Regions from separate parts of the Homo sapiens genome. Here region 2 is linked to region 1. The links come from fine-mapping of genetic effects on gene expression. A gene starts in region 1. The other region holds a variant in brackets. All regions are shown on one strand. Distances are between the middles of the regions. Region 1 holds the start of TENM1 (teneurin transmembrane protein 1). Region 2 has its middle 33 kb from the start of TEX13C.

Evidence for each region. PIP is the estimated chance that this variant, and not a neighbour inherited with it, causes the effect.
Region 2: its variant is fine-mapped to the expression of TENM1 in whole blood (TOPMed, PIP above 0.99).

Annotation. Positions count from the first base shown.
Region 1 is chrX:125,199,384-125,207,718 of GRCh38, forward strand. TENM1 (teneurin transmembrane protein 1) reads right to left here and starts at 4,929. Exons shown (of 35, transcript NM_001163278.2): 1 at 4,421-4,929. LOC124905211 (a long non-coding RNA gene) reads left to right here and starts at 5,077. Exons shown (of 2, transcript XR_007068314.1): 1 at 5,077-5,316; 2 at 5,659-8,335.
Region 2 is chrX:125,283,167-125,291,501 of GRCh38, forward strand. No RefSeq gene overlaps it. Among named protein-coding and RNA genes, the nearest start is that of TEX13C, 33 kb to the right of the region's middle. The variant C/A (reference allele first, on the strand shown) is at 4,929.

The DNA of each region.
Region 1 (8,335 bases):
GGGGATTATCCACCCATGTGAAAAGAGATTTTTAACATGTTTTTATGTGTCCATTTTCCAATTAGCTTCTCCACTCTTACAGTTAGAATAGAGCGGGGGTGGAGAATCCAATATTTCAGAATCATTACATCACATTAAAAACATCATCCAAGAGGTAGTGGTTAGTTGGCATATATGCATGTTTCACCATATGCTATTGTTTACCTAAAGTGGAGGCTCGGACAGGAAGTACAATTTAGAATAATTTTTTAAGTTGTAAATTATCCAAGATTATACTTCCAGGCCTTGAAATGGGTCCTGAAGTTACATAAAAATCTAATAGACTTCATTTATTAGACTCTAAGTTACTATTTTAAAATATTAGGGATCCATGTCACCTGTAAAAATATTTACTTTTCAAATTTAAATTAGCTTAATTTCTATACAGAAATGTTAGCATTGCAATTGATATAAATATTGTTATATAATAATTTTCAGTCTATGCCATCATATTCCAATTTCCTCAGCCCTATTTTTCATGGGTTCCAAATGTAAGCAATTTTGCTGGTCTTGCTAAATTGTACCACAGCACGTCTAGCAAACTACAAAATCTCTATACATTATATAAATTGCCATAACAGAGCACCGAATACTGAACAGACACCTATGGTTGGTCATCAAGGTTGTTAAGAATAATTAAAAGCTGTGTGAAGCCTTTTATAGCATTCACCTGCTCAAACTAAGCATGGTTCTAGCTGGTTATATTTGATATTTACTTTCCTCTGTTCTAAAAAAAATCAATGGAAAACAGAAAGGAATAAAAATAATATATTAAGCCAGGATTCAGAATATTTTTACCTTTTAGGGGAAGGAAAAATAATAGCAATCTCCATTCAAAGTAGTGATTTAATCTAACACTCAGAAGCTGTAGAAGATTTAAAGAAATTGTGGTATATGTGAGCATTTCTGAAATTTGATTCCTTTTAATTTTTATAATCAGCAGTTACACTTCCAGTCGTGGGTATATGCTGTTGGTCACAATTGCTAAATTCTGTACCTTACAATATTTTTCATCTGCCTGTAGTCATACTAGGAATCCAGTTTAAACCTTTCTTCTAAATGTTAAGTGATGGGAAGCTTTTTAAGTACGCATGGATTATTAATTTTGTGGTTAAAATCCACAGCAATTTAACAAATATATATAATTTTAATAAAGCTATTGTACATGTTTTATATCTGATTCAAGGCATTCACAAGCAATTGCTTCCGTGTGTGTGTGTGTGTGTGTGTGTGAGAGAGAGAGAGAGAGAGAGAGAACAAATATGAGTACTATAAGAAAATTTGTTTTCATCAAAAAAATTAATCACTGACTCAGTTATTCAAAGTACTGGTCTTCTTTTGACCTCTGGTCATTTATAAGTAAGTAAATAAATAAATGCATAAATAATAATAATTAACTTGTTTTGGGAAACTTTAGGGAATTTATTAACCATAATCTATACCAACTACTTGATAGCTTTACTTAAATCTGAAACTGAATGACTTAGGAAAAGCAAGCTTCAAGCAAAAATTATATGGACTCCAAATGTCTATCTCTAACATAGAATATGAAAAATGTTTGTTTTATTAATTAACACTAAAATTTCTTACTACTTCCAAGTTTTTAAGGCTGTCACAGAAAATAAATTTCCACTAAGTTTTCTGTTTTCAGAAACAACATATCAGGAATGTTTTGCAGTTTGACAATTTAAAGTAATATTGTATAGAATAAACTTGAATGCTAGACTGTTCTGCTTCAGCAAGAATCTTTCTGGTAAAGGTATCAGAAAGGATCAATGACTATGAGGGAAACTATGATTATGTCGGTGTTATTTACACATATAATAGCTGAATTGAAACACTGAGAATTCTAGGGTATTCAGACTGAATTAGGCCTTTGAATGTGATGATAGTTATGTATAATACAATTTTATTTTAATACACCTAAACGTTTGAATATTTGAAATCTTAATCACCTTTACAGCACAATGATTCTACAAAGCATTCTTTCCTTTAGCCTCACTGTATATTTTGTCAAATGACATGACTGTCCCTAATTCATAATTGGAACCTAAACCTAATGGAAAATACTACTTCATGTATGCAAAAATATTTGTGGGGTTTTTTTCTGCTATGTATAGCTGACATTGTTCTCAGGACTGGACTCTACTAGTTTTATTATGAAAATGTTAACATTTCTTCATAGAGTTGTTTTATAGAAACACCTGTTTTTCAGAAACATTCTGGGGAACAACCTGAAAACTTTTAAATAATATTTAGAGCATGGATTTATTTTAGGAATTACCTGATCCCTTTTTAAATGCATATTTCGACTTTCTTTAATCATGAAAAGTTTTCAACATTATTTTGTCATACCTGAAAGCTTTTAATTACTCTTAAAAACCCCAACTTTGCCATAGTAAATTATTTAATGCATCACAAAATAGTGTTATGAACTTGAACTAAAATGGCAAAATTGGGATTCTGTTTCTCCAGTTATGTACTTTGAGGGTCTTACTATGCCTTATGAAAATTCATTTTTCCCCACGTTGCAGATATGAAGAGCAAGGAGCGGGGGTGAGCAAGCAAGCAGATGCTGGGTAATCATGGAGCAGAAGTTAAAGGTGTGGATCGCCTTTTCATTAATTTTGTTTTTTAAGCCTTTCCCTCTTAGACTCTTCCCTTTCTTGGTAACACTGGAGTATCTACTGCTCCAGATCAGAAGACTTCGGACTAGGAAGATGAACTGGGCTATTTCAGCCAAAAAATATAATAGAGCAGACATTTGCCATGTTCTCCTCAAACACGTTAAGAGTAGCAATTGATTCTCACAGTACATTGTTACCTGGCTTGTTAATTATAATCATAGAACAAGAGTCTAAAATTCAAGGAAGCTGTCTGCGACACTTACTCGTCACAAACGCGATCAATTAAACGCTAATCTAACAGTACCTATTAGAGTGCACTGGGATGTTTCGTTTCCTTTTGGTCTTTAAAACCAAATGGCTACTAATTTCCTTTCTGTAGCACTGAGAACTTCTCTTTGTATTTCTTTGGGCCACCTCAAAAACACCTCCAGGTTGGTATCCCAGGAAAACAACGGTTAAGTTCAGGACGTTTACTGACCAATTGCTTCATATTGGAGATGTAGAGCTTTTCTACCCCTATTAGCATATCGCCAGTAGCAGTGATGCAGATCTGCTCAACCCGAAGCTGCCGACGGCGAGTACGAGCTGCAAACCAGCCCCCGCCCCCGCCCCTACTCTCCCAGTGGCGACACAGACGTGGAAACATCTACTAGTGGAGTGAGATCCTCTGTCTCCGCAATTGTAAACAACTGACTGCATCGGGTTCACTGAAATGTTTAAATACACTCCTGACTGCAAACACATCCACTCACCAAGTAGCGCTAACAATCTCCCCTTCTCCGCCTCTAGGCAAAGCATCCTGAAACTAAATTGGCAATCCTCCTGTTATGGAGTGGAAGAAAGTGAGGTTACATTTCCCCAAGCCTGCCTAGCGGGTGCTTGGCGCTCGCAGATATGCTGGCCGTTGCTGAATCTCGGGGACCAAGTCTCTGGATGAAATGCGGAAACACACAAACCCGCACATTGGAGCGCATGGTTAAAGTCAACACCGACGGCTCCTGGAGCACCGCCTGGGTTGTAATGACTATCTCTTTTGACAAAGATTGACAAAGGTATAGGGAGGACGCATCGGGTGGGGCCCTCGACGGCGGCGTAGGTTAGGAGGTCCTGCAGTTCCCCCGGGAACCCGGGCTCCCTGAGTGAGGCTCAAATAGAAATTCAGAAGCAAACAGGTACTAAAGTGCGTCCTAGCCCTTGGGCATATTCTCTGCGGAGACAGCAGGACCTGGACCCCAGTGGCAGAGCCCCAGGCGAACGCTCCAGGGTGGGAGGGATGCCAGAGAAGCGCCCCTTTCTTTCTTTTTAGACCGAGCCTCCCATCCTCACCCCAAGCACCCAGGTCCACTTGTTAGAGTGACTGGGCTCTGCGCGAGAGCCGAGGCGAGGAGGCTCCCTCTCAGAACTGAAGGAGTTGGTTGGTAAAAGTGCCGCCTGGGAAGCCCAGCGAGCCCTCGAAGGGCAGCGTCCCCAGGGCCCGCTGGAAGCTTGAACTGCGAACAAGGCCGACCTCCCTTCTGCCCCAGATGGTCCAGAGCCCCATGGCCGGCGGAGACCGGGAGAAGAAGGATGCGGAGGCTCTGCCACCTCGGGCAGGAGTCCCAGAGCGGACTCAACCGGCCGCTAACAGCCAGGAGCCGCCATCCGCCGCCTGCAGCCTCGGGGCGAAGTTCGCCTGTAGTCCTTGGGGTAGAAGGTTGGGGGTGGCGGGCGGGAGCGAGAAGGAATGGGGTGGGAGCCAGGAGAAACGCACCTACCTATTCCAAGCGCAAGTTTCGGCGGCGTCCCCAGGTGCTGTTCCCCCGCCCCCTCGCCAGGTGCTCGGCTCCGCCGGGCGCTGCCAGTGCCCGGGACTTAGGGCGTCTCGGCCGACTCCTGCGGGAAACGACTGTAAATCCACATTACTGTTCGAGCTGCCGCTCGGGCCCCCGCATTGCTCTCCTCCGGCTGCTGGCAGCGGTGCTCTAAACCGGCGGCCGCCGGAGGCAGGAACCGAACCTAGCTACTATTGCACCAGCGGACGACCGCTGCCAGAAGGGTGCTTGCGCCCAGGGTCCTATGTGTGTGCGAGAGAGTGTGAATACGTGTGTGTGTGTGAGTGAAAGAGAGTGTTCGTGTGTGAGAGAGCAGAAGGGGTGAGCTCAGCCCCCGGGGCACTCGGAGGTGAACTCCGGGCTGAGCCGAAGCTCGCCGCGCTCCCGGGTGCTGGGCGTCTGCTCGGCTGATGGCTGGGCTGATGTTGCCGTGGCCGCCGCCGCCGCGCTCTAAGGCTGGTCGCGGTGGTGCAAAAAATGTTTCTCCGCTACTCGAGACCAAAAAACCTGCCCTGTCTACTGAGCATGCCCGGTTTGACAGCTTCACAGCCGAGGTTTTTTTTTTTTTCTCCTTTTCCCCAAGACTCCAGGTTTTAGCCGCAGCTGAGATGGGAGGTGGAGGGAGGTGGGGGGAGGAGGAGAGGGAGAGGAGGAGGAGGAGAAAGAGGAGAAGGGCTTAAGGAGCAAGTATCGGGCAGAGGAAGGGAAGTCGCAATGAGAAAGATCAGGGTGTTATAGGGTGGAGAGGGGAAGGAGAAAGCTGGATATGGAAGCAGAGGAAGGAAATATGGATCAACAAAATTTAGATTTCCTACTACAGTGGATAGATGCCTGGCCAGGTGACTCACTCGATGTTTTTTTTTTTTTTTTTTTTTTAATTACTTTCTCCTGAGGGTGAGGGGTGGGGTGGGGGGTTCGGATGAGTATTTGTCAACCCCAGGATCAGCCTGGGACAGTGTTACCTAGTCATGACATACACAAACATCGCGTGCACACACACGCGCGCGCACACGAGCGCACACACAGGAGCACAATCACTGCTTCTATGTTCAAAGCCTCAGGACTGACTTAGAATGCGAAGTCTTTTGCCAGTATAACTTTGGCAAAAAAAAAAAAAAAAGGGCGGGGGGAGAGAAATTGTTTGGTTTCCTTTTCTTATTCTCCTCTCCCCCGCCTTCCAGAAAAGCCAAAAGCCCGTGAATGCGGTGCATAAGCGACCCACAAGCTCTCGTGCGTCTGTCGGTGAGAGTGCACCGCCGACTGCGTCCTGCTGACAGTGTGACCCCAGAGCGCCAAGGCCGGCCGGCCACATGCAGCCTACTGGCGGCGCATCAGATCAGCAGTAACGACGTCCACCTGAAGGTGGTTGGGGGAAGAGGGGAGCGCTAAGGGATCCTGCCCTGCCTGGCCGCCCAGGTTCCTGGGCTCCCTAAACGGCTCCGCCCCTCACCCAGCCTGGCACCAGGGCACGTACTCGGGCGAACCCAGCGCGCTGCCCCAAGCCCTGGATCCCTCCCTCCCTCCCAACCCTCCTCAGCTTCCTCGAAAAAGCGGAGAAGCGGAATCTGCACGCCCAGAAACTCGCGTCAGAAGCCTTAGTAGTCCGACTGGGCATGCTCGGGACTTGGGGCGCTTCGCATGGAGGCACTCTCCAGCGGCTAACATCTGTCCGACTGGGCCAGATGTGAGTCTGAAGTAGGAGGCTTGGATGCACGCTAGAGCAGGCTCTGGTTCCGGGAGGGGTGGCGGCGACGCCCACAGCAGTCTTCTTTCCGGCTTCCCACAGAGAGCAAGACCGTGGGAGATACCAAGTGCCGAGCCAGGGGAGCTGCACAAACTGGAGAAATAGGAGTCTAGCGGATTCCCAGGCCTCCTGCCCCGCGGTGCCACCCCAGCCGTAGGCAGGTAGGGGGCGCGCAGAGCAGCTAGGGAGCACCGCGTGTGCTCCCAAGGGACTGCTGACCTCTAGGTAAAGAAAAGAGAGCGTGAAGAGTCGAACATTCTTTGGGCGAAGGACGTTTACTGATTTTTTTTTTTTTAAGTAAAGAAAGAAGGGCGTGTGTGAATGCGTATATGTGCACGCACGTTTTAAATTTTCCTCCGCAAGAACAGGGACAGGAGAGCGAGAAGCTATTGCCGAGTTGGGAACCCGCTAGAGGTTACAATAAGGCAGGCTTGGAGTCGTGGCTGGTGCTAGTTACCGGGAAGAGTTCCTCTTGGCGCGGTGGGCGAACACCAAAGCTTCCAACTGTTCCCTTCCCTGGGTGGCGGCAGCTGCCCAAGGTCGGCTTCCGGGCTGGTCTCTGTGCTCCTGAGCAGGGGGACCAGATTCAGTTTCAGAAAGAGAGGTAGTACAGAGTGACGCCAGGGGGAGTTCTCTGAACCGTGTGTTCCCATTTTCCCAGCTTTTGATATAGGTATTTGCAAAGAGGGAGCATTGTAAGACCATCACACCACCAAGGGGAGGAAATACAAAGAGCTGAACACTCTAGGGGGAAGAATCAGGGAATCAAGAGCACGTTTATTCCCATCGTCCCTTCCCAACAAGGTCTTCAGCTTCAGGCAGGAATCATTTGGATCCCTGCGGCTCAACACCCTCCCACTCCCGTCCCGCCCCACCGCCCTGCCAACAAAGAAACAAAAGATGACAACCAGGCTCTGTAGGGGCATAGCAACTGCTTCTATCACCGGCTCTCTGTTGGGCTGTTGAGAAAGCAGTAGTGAAAGGATGGGTATAAAACCTGTGTCTTGCCACAAATATGTAAACGAAACCTTCCTAAAACCCACTACCCTCCTACAAAACAAAAACAAGTTATTTGTATAAACATATATAGATTTAAGTATCCTAAATAAAGATTCCACATTATGAACTGCCCAAACCCTGAACTGTGGAAGGAAGACTTTCAGGATACCTCCTCAATCCTTACCAAAGAGTTCTGGAAGGAGAAAAAAAAGAAACATCTGGCCAGTCACTTCTCCAATGACTGGAAATACTCTGGGTGTTTCCGTAACCAGCGATTAAGAAAAGAACTCCCCATAACAAAAAGGGAATTCTGGCCAAATGGGACATGGACAAACCCTAATGACCAAGGAAATGGAATATGAATTTAAAAGCATGATTATCTCACTCTCATTCTTGCTGTTCCTTTGTTACTCTTCTTGAAGATACTGGCAGAAAGGGAGAGTTGATACTTAGGGATTTCATGAAAGGAGGCCGAGTTTGTTTCTCTCCTGGCAATTCAGCAGTCCCTGTAATCATTTTTTTTTAGAAATTCTCTACCACCTCCTCTTTATGCTGTATTTTCTCTAGCATTCTTCCCTCTCATTTCCTTACTGGTCTCCTGTGGCTCCCTGGTGTCCTTAATTCATTTGGTCTGCACCTGTCTCCCTTTAGTTCCTTCAAAACATTGTTTCCAGTCCTAATTCCGAAGTACAGAGGGCTCTGTCACTTTTCTCTGTTTCCTAAGAACTGATTTGCTGCTTCTAGACGCCTATATCCTGATATTGTAGGTGGATTTCCTAAGGCATTTATTCAACTTTAGAGATTCCCCAGACACATTTAAGCAACATGAAATTGCAGAATTTTCAAGTAGTTTTGCTCATGGGACCAAGAATTTCTATTTCAAATATGAATATCAGGAAGAAGACACACTAAATTGCTAGTTTCAGAATAGCCAATGTAAATATAACAGATTGTAATGGAGCATGCAATCTCTATATGACAGTTGTCCAGTTGCCAAGTGTATATTATTAAAATAATTTGCTAGGAATTTTAAGATATATACCTTTTTGTTAACAAAGACACACACACACACATGCACTCATACACCTTTTTATGTTTATTCCCAAAACTAATGT
Region 2 (8,335 bases), 84 kb after region 1:
TCATGTTTTCCACATTTCAAAACCAAGTATGCCTTTCCAATAGTCCCTCAAAGTCTTAATTATTTCAGCATTAACTCAAAAGTCCACAGTCCAAAGTCTCATCCAAGATAAGTCAAGTCCTCTGAAATCTAAGCAGAGGTTCCCAAACCTCAATTCTTGACTTCTGTGCACCCGCAGGCCCAACCGCTTATGTAAGTCACCAAGGCTTGGGCCTTGCATGCTCTGAAGCAATGGCTTGAGCTGCATTTTAGCCCCCTTTAGCCAAAGCTGGGATGCAGGACACCAAGTGTTGAGACTGCACAAAGTAGCAAGGCTCTGGAACGGGCCTATGAAATCATTTTTTCATCCTAGGCCTCAGGACCTGTGATGGGAGGGGCTGCCATGAAGACCTCTGACATGCCCTGGAGACATTTTCCCCATTATCTTAGAGATTAACATTTGGCTCTCATTACTTACGCAGATATCTGAAGCTGGCTTGAATTTCTCCTCAGTAAATGGGTTTTACTTTTCTATCACATCATCAGGCTGCAAATTTTCCAAATTTTTATGCTCTGCTTCCCTTTAAAACATTAAGTTCCAATTCCAAACAATGTCTTTGTGAATGCATAAAACTAAATACTTTTAAGAGCACCCAAGCCATGTCTTGAATGCTTTGCTGCTTACAAATTTCTTCCGCCAGATACCCTAAATCATCTCTCTCAAGTTCAAAGTTCCACAGATCTATAGGGCAGGGACAAAATGCCATCAGTTTCTTTGCTAAAGCACAGCAAGAGTCACCTTTATTCCAGTTCCCAACAAGTTCCTCCTCTCCATCAGAGACGACCTTAGCCTGGACTTCATTGTCAATATCACTATAAGCATTTTGGTCAAAGCCATTCAACAAGTGTCTAGGAAGTTCCAAACTTTCCCACATCTTCCTGTCTTCTTCCGGACCTTCCAAACTGTTCCAACCTCTGCCTGTTATCCAGTTCCAAATTCGCTTCTACATTTTAAGGTATTTTTACAGCACGTAAAATTGGTACCACCTCCAGTACCAATTTACTGTATTAGTCTGTTGTCACACTGCTATGAAGAAATACGTGAGACTCAACAATTTATAAAGAAGAGAGGTTTAATTGACTCACAGTTTGGCGTTGCTGCGGAGGCTTCAGGAAACTTACAATCATGGCAAAAGGCAAAGGAGAAGCAGGCACCTTCTACACAGGGCAGCAAGACAGAGTGAGTGCAGTTATAAAACCATCAGATCTTTTGAGAACTCATTATTATGAGAACAGCACGGGGAAAACCACATCCATGATCCAATTACCTCCACTCGATCCTGCCCTTGACATGTGGGGATTATGGGGATTACAATCCAAGGTGAGACTTGGGTGGGGCCACAGAACCAAACCATATCACATACTTTCTAAAAAGAAGTCAGGTATAATTCTTGTATTTGCTTCTCTGTAAAGTGTTTTTCCCTCTGACTCCTTTCAAGATTTTTTTCATTATCTTCTGTACTTTTGAAATTTGATATTATCTGCCTTGGTATAGTGATTTTTGGTAATTTATCCTGCTTTCTGTTCTCTGAGCTTCCAGCATCTATGGTTTGATGTCTGACATTAATTTGGGAGAAATTCTCAGTCATTGCTTCAGATATTTCTTCTGTTCCTTTCTCTTTTTCTGATATTCCCATTATGTGTATGCTCTCTCTTTTGTAGTTTCCCATAGTTTGTTAGGGTCTGGTAAAACTCAAGCAGGCTAGCCTCTGGTTAAATAATTTCTCCTGAGGGCAGGCTTTATTAAGAAGAATCTAATGTATTTCCCTCTACCTGCTGGATGCAGGAAGGGGTTTTCCTTTGATAAACACTGTGAAGATCTAGTAGAGCCCGTGGAGGTGAAACTAACCAAAGTGTGAGTGTCCCTTATGACTGGATTCTGATGAAGATTTTATTTCTTAGGCTTGTTTACCTGAGCCTCCAGCAATGTTTTCGATTATTGTTTGGAGTTTTCTACCCTGCAGAAGTTTCTGCTGCTGGGTTTCTTCTCAGTAAGTTGTGATTCTTGGTATCTACTTGTTGGTGTCTCCAATTTTTGAGGTAACAGTTCTTTGACAGATTTAAGAAGAGTTATTAATTTCTCAGTGTATTTAACTTTAACTTTTTTTTTTTTAATTTGAAACTGAGTCTCGCTGCCACCCAGGCTGGAGTGCAGTGCCGCGATCTTGGCTCACTGAAACCTCTGCCTACTCAGTTCAAGCAATTCCCCTGCCTCAGCCTCCTGAGTAACTGAGACTACAGGTGCCTGCCACCATGCCCAGCTAATTTTTGTACTTTCAGTAGAGATGGGGTTTCACCATGTCGGCCAGGCTGGTCTCGAACTCCTGACCTCAAGTAATCTGCCCGCCTTGGCCTCTCAAACTGCTGGGATTACAGGCCTGAGCCCCTGCGCACAGCCTGTTTAACTTTTTACTTGTTAAAATGGAGTGAAGACTTCCAAGTTCCTTACATGTCAGACAGGAAAGTGGAAGTCTGGAGACATATCATTTTCATATCTGACATTTGCTTCTAATAGACAAAGCAGAATATTTCCATCAAATTTATCGGAGACAAAATAGGTGCTTATTGTTGCAAATTATACTGCCATTATTGCAAGTGTGGGTTAGTTATTCAGGGGGTTGCTAGTTATTAAGTGGGCTATTTTAAAAGTACATTTGGCCTACTCTTGCTCTCAACCTTTCTTGCCCTTCCACCTTCTGTGATAGGATGATTCAGCAAGAAGGTCTTCACTAAATTCTGGCACCATGTTCTCATACTTCCCAGCCTCCAGAATCATGAATGAGCTTTTATTGCTTGTATCAGTCTGTGGTATTCTCTTATAGCAGCACAAAATGAACCAAGACAAAAACTGGTATTGAGAAGTAAGGCTTTTGTTAGAATAAATACCTGTAAATGTGGAAGCAGCTTTGGAACTGGGTCATGAACAGAGGCTGGAAGAATTTGGTGGAACAGGCTAGAAAACGCATAGGTTGCTGTGAATGGAGTGCTAAGGGCAATTCTGGTGAGAGCTCAGAAGAGGGAGCACTGTAGGAAAGAGTGCAATCTCTTAGAGATTACTTAAGTCATTGTTATCAGAATACTGGTAGAAATATGAACAGTAATGATAATTCTGATGAGGTATCAGGTGGAAATGGGGAACGAGGTATTGGAAACTGGAGGAAAGGCCATCCTTCTTACCAGGGCTTGCCCAAGGGCTTTATAAAAGGTGGAATTTAAGAGTAATGGACTAGAATATCTGGCAGAATAAATTTTTAAGCAAAATATTTAAAAAGATATGTGGCCATTTTAACCACATATAGGAAGCTATGAATAGAGAAATATTACTTAAAGATGAAATTTATAATGAAAAGAGAATTAAAATGAAAAGATTTAGAAAATTATCAGCCTGGCCATATAAGAAGTGAAAAGGCACATTTAGAAGAACAAACCAAGGGTGTGGCCAAGCAACACTTTGCTAAAGAGACTACTAAAGATAGAAGAGAGCCAAGTGCTATTTATCAAGACAATGATAGAACGACCCTGAAGGCATTTCAGAGATCTTTGAGTAGGCTGCTCCTCCCATTATAGTTTCAGAACAGGGCTGTGAGTCAGGGCAACGTATCCAGAAAGGGGCCCATGGGACTTCAGCATGCGCTGCTTATGGCCACCTCATGATTCTGCTCCCCACATTCTGGCACACTGCTCCTTGGTCACCTCACCTGTGGCTCAGGCAGGCCCAGGTGAACCTCATGTTGTTGCTCTGGAGGGTGAAAGTGATGTTGATGGCGGTGGCAGCCTATCTGGAGTGGCCACTGCCATGATGCTGGCTACAGTGGGGGAGGCACAACTTGGACTGCACACTCCATGGAGCTGGCGGGAGCTAGGAACAGGGAGAAGCCCAGCCCCCTTCCAAGTTGGAGAAGAAGGAGCTTCACCATCCCTGGTGCAGCTGCAGCCACACAGCAGCAGCAGCTGTGCACCCAGGCATCTCTGCACTCTTGGGGGCCCATGAAGCCCCCCTGCCCCTGCAGGCTCAGAAGTGCCTGCTCCTGCTGCATGGCCTCTCTTCACTCATGGAACCCACTTTGATTTCAGAGCAAAGTTGTGGCTGAGCCTGGGTGCTGTCACCACCCAGCTGAGTGTGTGCACACTTGGGGCAGTGCTGACATACCAGCCCCTTGCTGCCTTGGCCCCCTCTGGACTTTAGGTGCCAATGAGCACAGTTGGGAGGATGGTGGGGGTGGTAAGGGTGTCTCTGGGCAGGACTTCGGGCATCCCTTGGCACAAACAGCCTGGGCGCTGTGCACACCATGGACAGCAGGTTAATGGTGGCAGGAGGCAGGCTCCTAGGCAGAAAGGGGTCCCTGGTGAAACTCCACCTTCAGGCCTGGGACGGCCTAATGCCTGAGGGCCAGGCTGCCAGTTCTGAGGACTGGAGTGAGAACTTATGGTGCTTTTTCTGGCCAGCCCATGGCCACTCATGGACCAATCAGCACATACTTCTTCCTCTTTGAAGTCCATAAAAACCCTGGACTCAGGCGGACTCAGGCAGATGACAGGACCACCTGCCTGTGGAGAGGAGCTACCCAATGTGAGTCTCCTCTCTGCTGGGAGCTGAGCAGTTGATGAGACAACCTGCCTGTGGAGAGGAGCTACCTGCTGTGGGTTTCCTCTCTGCTGAGAGCTGAACAAACATCTCGATGACCTGCCTATGCAGAGGAGCTACCGACTGTGGTTCTCCTCTCTGCTGAGAGCTGAACAAACGCCTGGATGACCTGCCTGTGCAGAGGAGCTACCGACTGTGGTTCCCCTCTCTGCTGAGAGCTGAACACTCTTCAGGATGACCTGCCTGGGGAGAGGAGGTACCTATTGCAGGTCAGCTCTGAGCTGTTTTGTCACTCAATAAAGCAC[C/A]TCTTCACCTTGCTCACCCTCCACTTGTCTGCATATCTCATTTTTCCTGGATGCAGGACAAGAACTCGGGACCTGCTGAATAGCAGAGCTGAAGCAGCCGTAACACAAACAGGGCTGAAATGCACCCCTTGCTCACCACGTTGAGGGTGACAAGAAGGAGAGAAGACAGAAGGAGAGAAGAGCTGCGGCCCTTCAGGAAGCCCAGACCTAGGAGCTTCCTGAGCTAGGGCTGTGATACCCTCTTTGGGGATCTGTGGTTCCTGGCATCTCCAAGCTTCTGGGTGCCACTGTGTTCCTTGGTGCCAGCTATGGAAGCTACTTGCGGTACACCTGATCCAGCTGTAGCCTTGCAGGGAGCTGGTGCCTGTGCCAGCCCCTGAAGCTTCCCACCCCACTGCAACTGGCGTGCCTTGCTGTGTGAAGTGGCTGGACCCTACGCTCACTCACTCACACACTCCTTGATGCTTTGCTCACCCTTGGCAGGTGAGGGATCCAGGCCGGTATCATGAACCGAGAGTAACCTGGCAGGCTGAGTGGGAGGAATGAGCCCCACATGCCAGAGCAAAACTCAGGCAAAGGCACCACTGGCCACAGAGGTTTCCAGCTGGAAAAGCAACACCCCAAGGATCCCATAACAGTGTGAGCCTTGGCAGTGGTCATGTGGTGCTGACTCTGCAGACACAGAATACATGAGCTATGAGGCCATGGTGACCTTCACCTAGATTTCAAAAGATGTATTGGGCAGCATGCGGGTTCAGGAAGAAACTTGTCACAGGGGCAGAGCCACTATAGAGAGCCCCCACTAAGGCAGTGCCTAGTAGAGCTCTGAAAATGAGGCCACTACAGAGAGTCCCTATTAGAGTAATGCCTAGTAGAGCTGTTGGAGTAAGTCCGCCATCAATACCCCAGAGCTATAGAGTTACCGGAGTGCAATACCAGCCTGAGAGCTGCAGGCATGTAACTCCAACCCAAGGGATCTGAAGCATGGACTGAGCCCAGTAAAGCTGTTGGGGCAGGGCTGCCAGAAGCCTTGGGGGCCCGATCTCCACCCCAGTGTGCCCAGGGTGCTGAACATGGAGTAAAATGAAGTTATTCTCCTGCTTTAAGACCTAACGTTGTTTTCTCTATTGAGTTTTGGACTTACCTGGGACTGGTTACCCTTTTCTTCCTGCTTATTTCTCCCTTTTGGAATGGGAATGTCTAGCCTATGACAGTCCCACCATTGTGTATTAGAAGCAGATGATTTGTTTTGATTTCATAGGGTCACAGCTGGAGAGAAATGTGCCTCAGTGTGAATCATACCTTGTGTTCATGCATATTTGATTTAGATGAGACTCTGGACTTTGGACTTTTGAGTTGATGCTGGAATGAGTAAAGGCTCTGGGGCTATTGGGGTGGAGCTAATGCGTTTTCATATGAGAAAGATATGCACTTTAGGGGCCAGAGGTAAAATGCTATGGTCTGACTGTGTCTCCCAATGTTGATGTGTTGGAAACTCAATCCCCAGTGCAGTAGTTTTAGGAGGTAGGACATTCAAGAGGTAATTAGGTCATGAGGGAGTGGGTTTGTTATTGTGAGTGGGCAGTTATGAAAATGAGGTTGGCCCTCTCTTACTCTTTCACTCTTACCCTCCCACCTTCTGCCATGAGATGATGAAGGATGAAGGCCTTCACCAGATGTCAGTGTCATACTCTTGGACTTCCTAGTCTCCGGAACCATGAGCCAAATAAACTTCTTTCCATTATCTTTTTTTAAAGACAGCCTCACTGTTGCCCAGGCTGGAGTGCAGTGGCATGATCATAGCTCACTGCAGCTTTGAATTCCTGGGCTCAAACAATCCTTCCATCTCATCCTCCTGAGTAACTGAGACTATGGGCACACACCACCGTGCCTGGATAATTTATTTTATTTGTTATTTTTTTGTAGAGATGGGGTCTTGCTTTGCTTCTCAGGCTGGTCTCTCAAACTCCTGGTTTTAAGTGATCCCCTTGCCTTGGCCTTCTAAAGTGCTGGAATTTACAGGCATGAGTCACCATGCCTGGTATAAACTTATAATGTTTATAAATTACTCAGGATGTGGAATTATGTTATAGCAGTACAAAACGGAGCAAGACAAAACCAAAATGAGGGTCGATGCCTGTCATATTTCTCAAAGTCTATGCCATGCTCCTCAAAGCATTCATACAATAATTAAATGCTGGTAACATTTGTCTCTGTAGACAAATATTTTTGGTTTCTATTATTAGACAATAAGAACTATAAAATCCCATAATGTTTTCAATTTATGTTTGAGTCCAAGAAGATGAGCACTAAATTTAGGGCTCAATTGCAACTAAATCAACCTGAAACTCTTAGCAAAATTCAATTTTTACTAACAAATGGCATTTAATTTACATAGGCTTAGCTTTAATATTTAAATCAATTTATATAATTTTAATGAATGGTGATACTATCAATTAATAAAAATGAATTTAAAATAAGCAAAAATATACATCTTTTAATAATTTCAGATTTTTTTTTTTTTTTAACTTTAAGTACTGGGATACATGTGCGGAATGTGCCGGTTTGTTACATAGGTATACATATGCATGGTGATTTGCTGCACCCTATCAACCCATCATCTAGGTTTTAAGTAAAAATCATATGCAGATAAGAATGCAGAAAATATAATTAGAATTTGGAAGAATTATAAATGAAAATATAAATGTTTATTTTCAAGTGCTTTTGCTCATATTTAAAAATTCAGTATTTGGAATTTAAAGGTCTCTGCTTATTTTAGAGTTATTCCAAAATAACTGGGAATGTCATGGTTCTAGTAATTTTTTTTTAACTAGCAAGACAAATATGTCTAAAGAAGGATTAAGCTTGTTTGTTGATGTGGAATTGTCAGTAATGTGTTTAGGGTGGAAATGTATTTCAATTTTTTGGTGCCTTTCCTTGAAAACTATAGAGTCTTCAGAGGCGTTTTCCCTAAGGGTCATACCATGTAGCTATCTTAAAGGGAAAAGAACTTTATAAGTAAGTACTTCTGATGCCTAAGGAATTAGTACCCTCATACTAGTACCTTTTTATATGGTTTAATTTTCCATCTCACAGTAACCAGTTTTATGTCATATGGGGAACAAATGCAGGGTCATTCTTTCTTTTTAGATTTGAGACAATTATCTGTACTATTTAAGTAAAAAGTAAACTGTGTGCTCCAGAGTGGCTGTCAATATTGACTAAATTGACAGAGCAATTACTCAACTTTCTATTTCATTTGCCTTTGTACACATAGCCACAAATCAACTGGCTCAGTTAACTTACTCTGAGGAATTAATTTCCTTTGAAAACCTAACTTTTTAGCATGGTACAATTTAATAATAAAGTAGAAATATTTACAGTGGGCAAACTTTGAAAATAAGTAT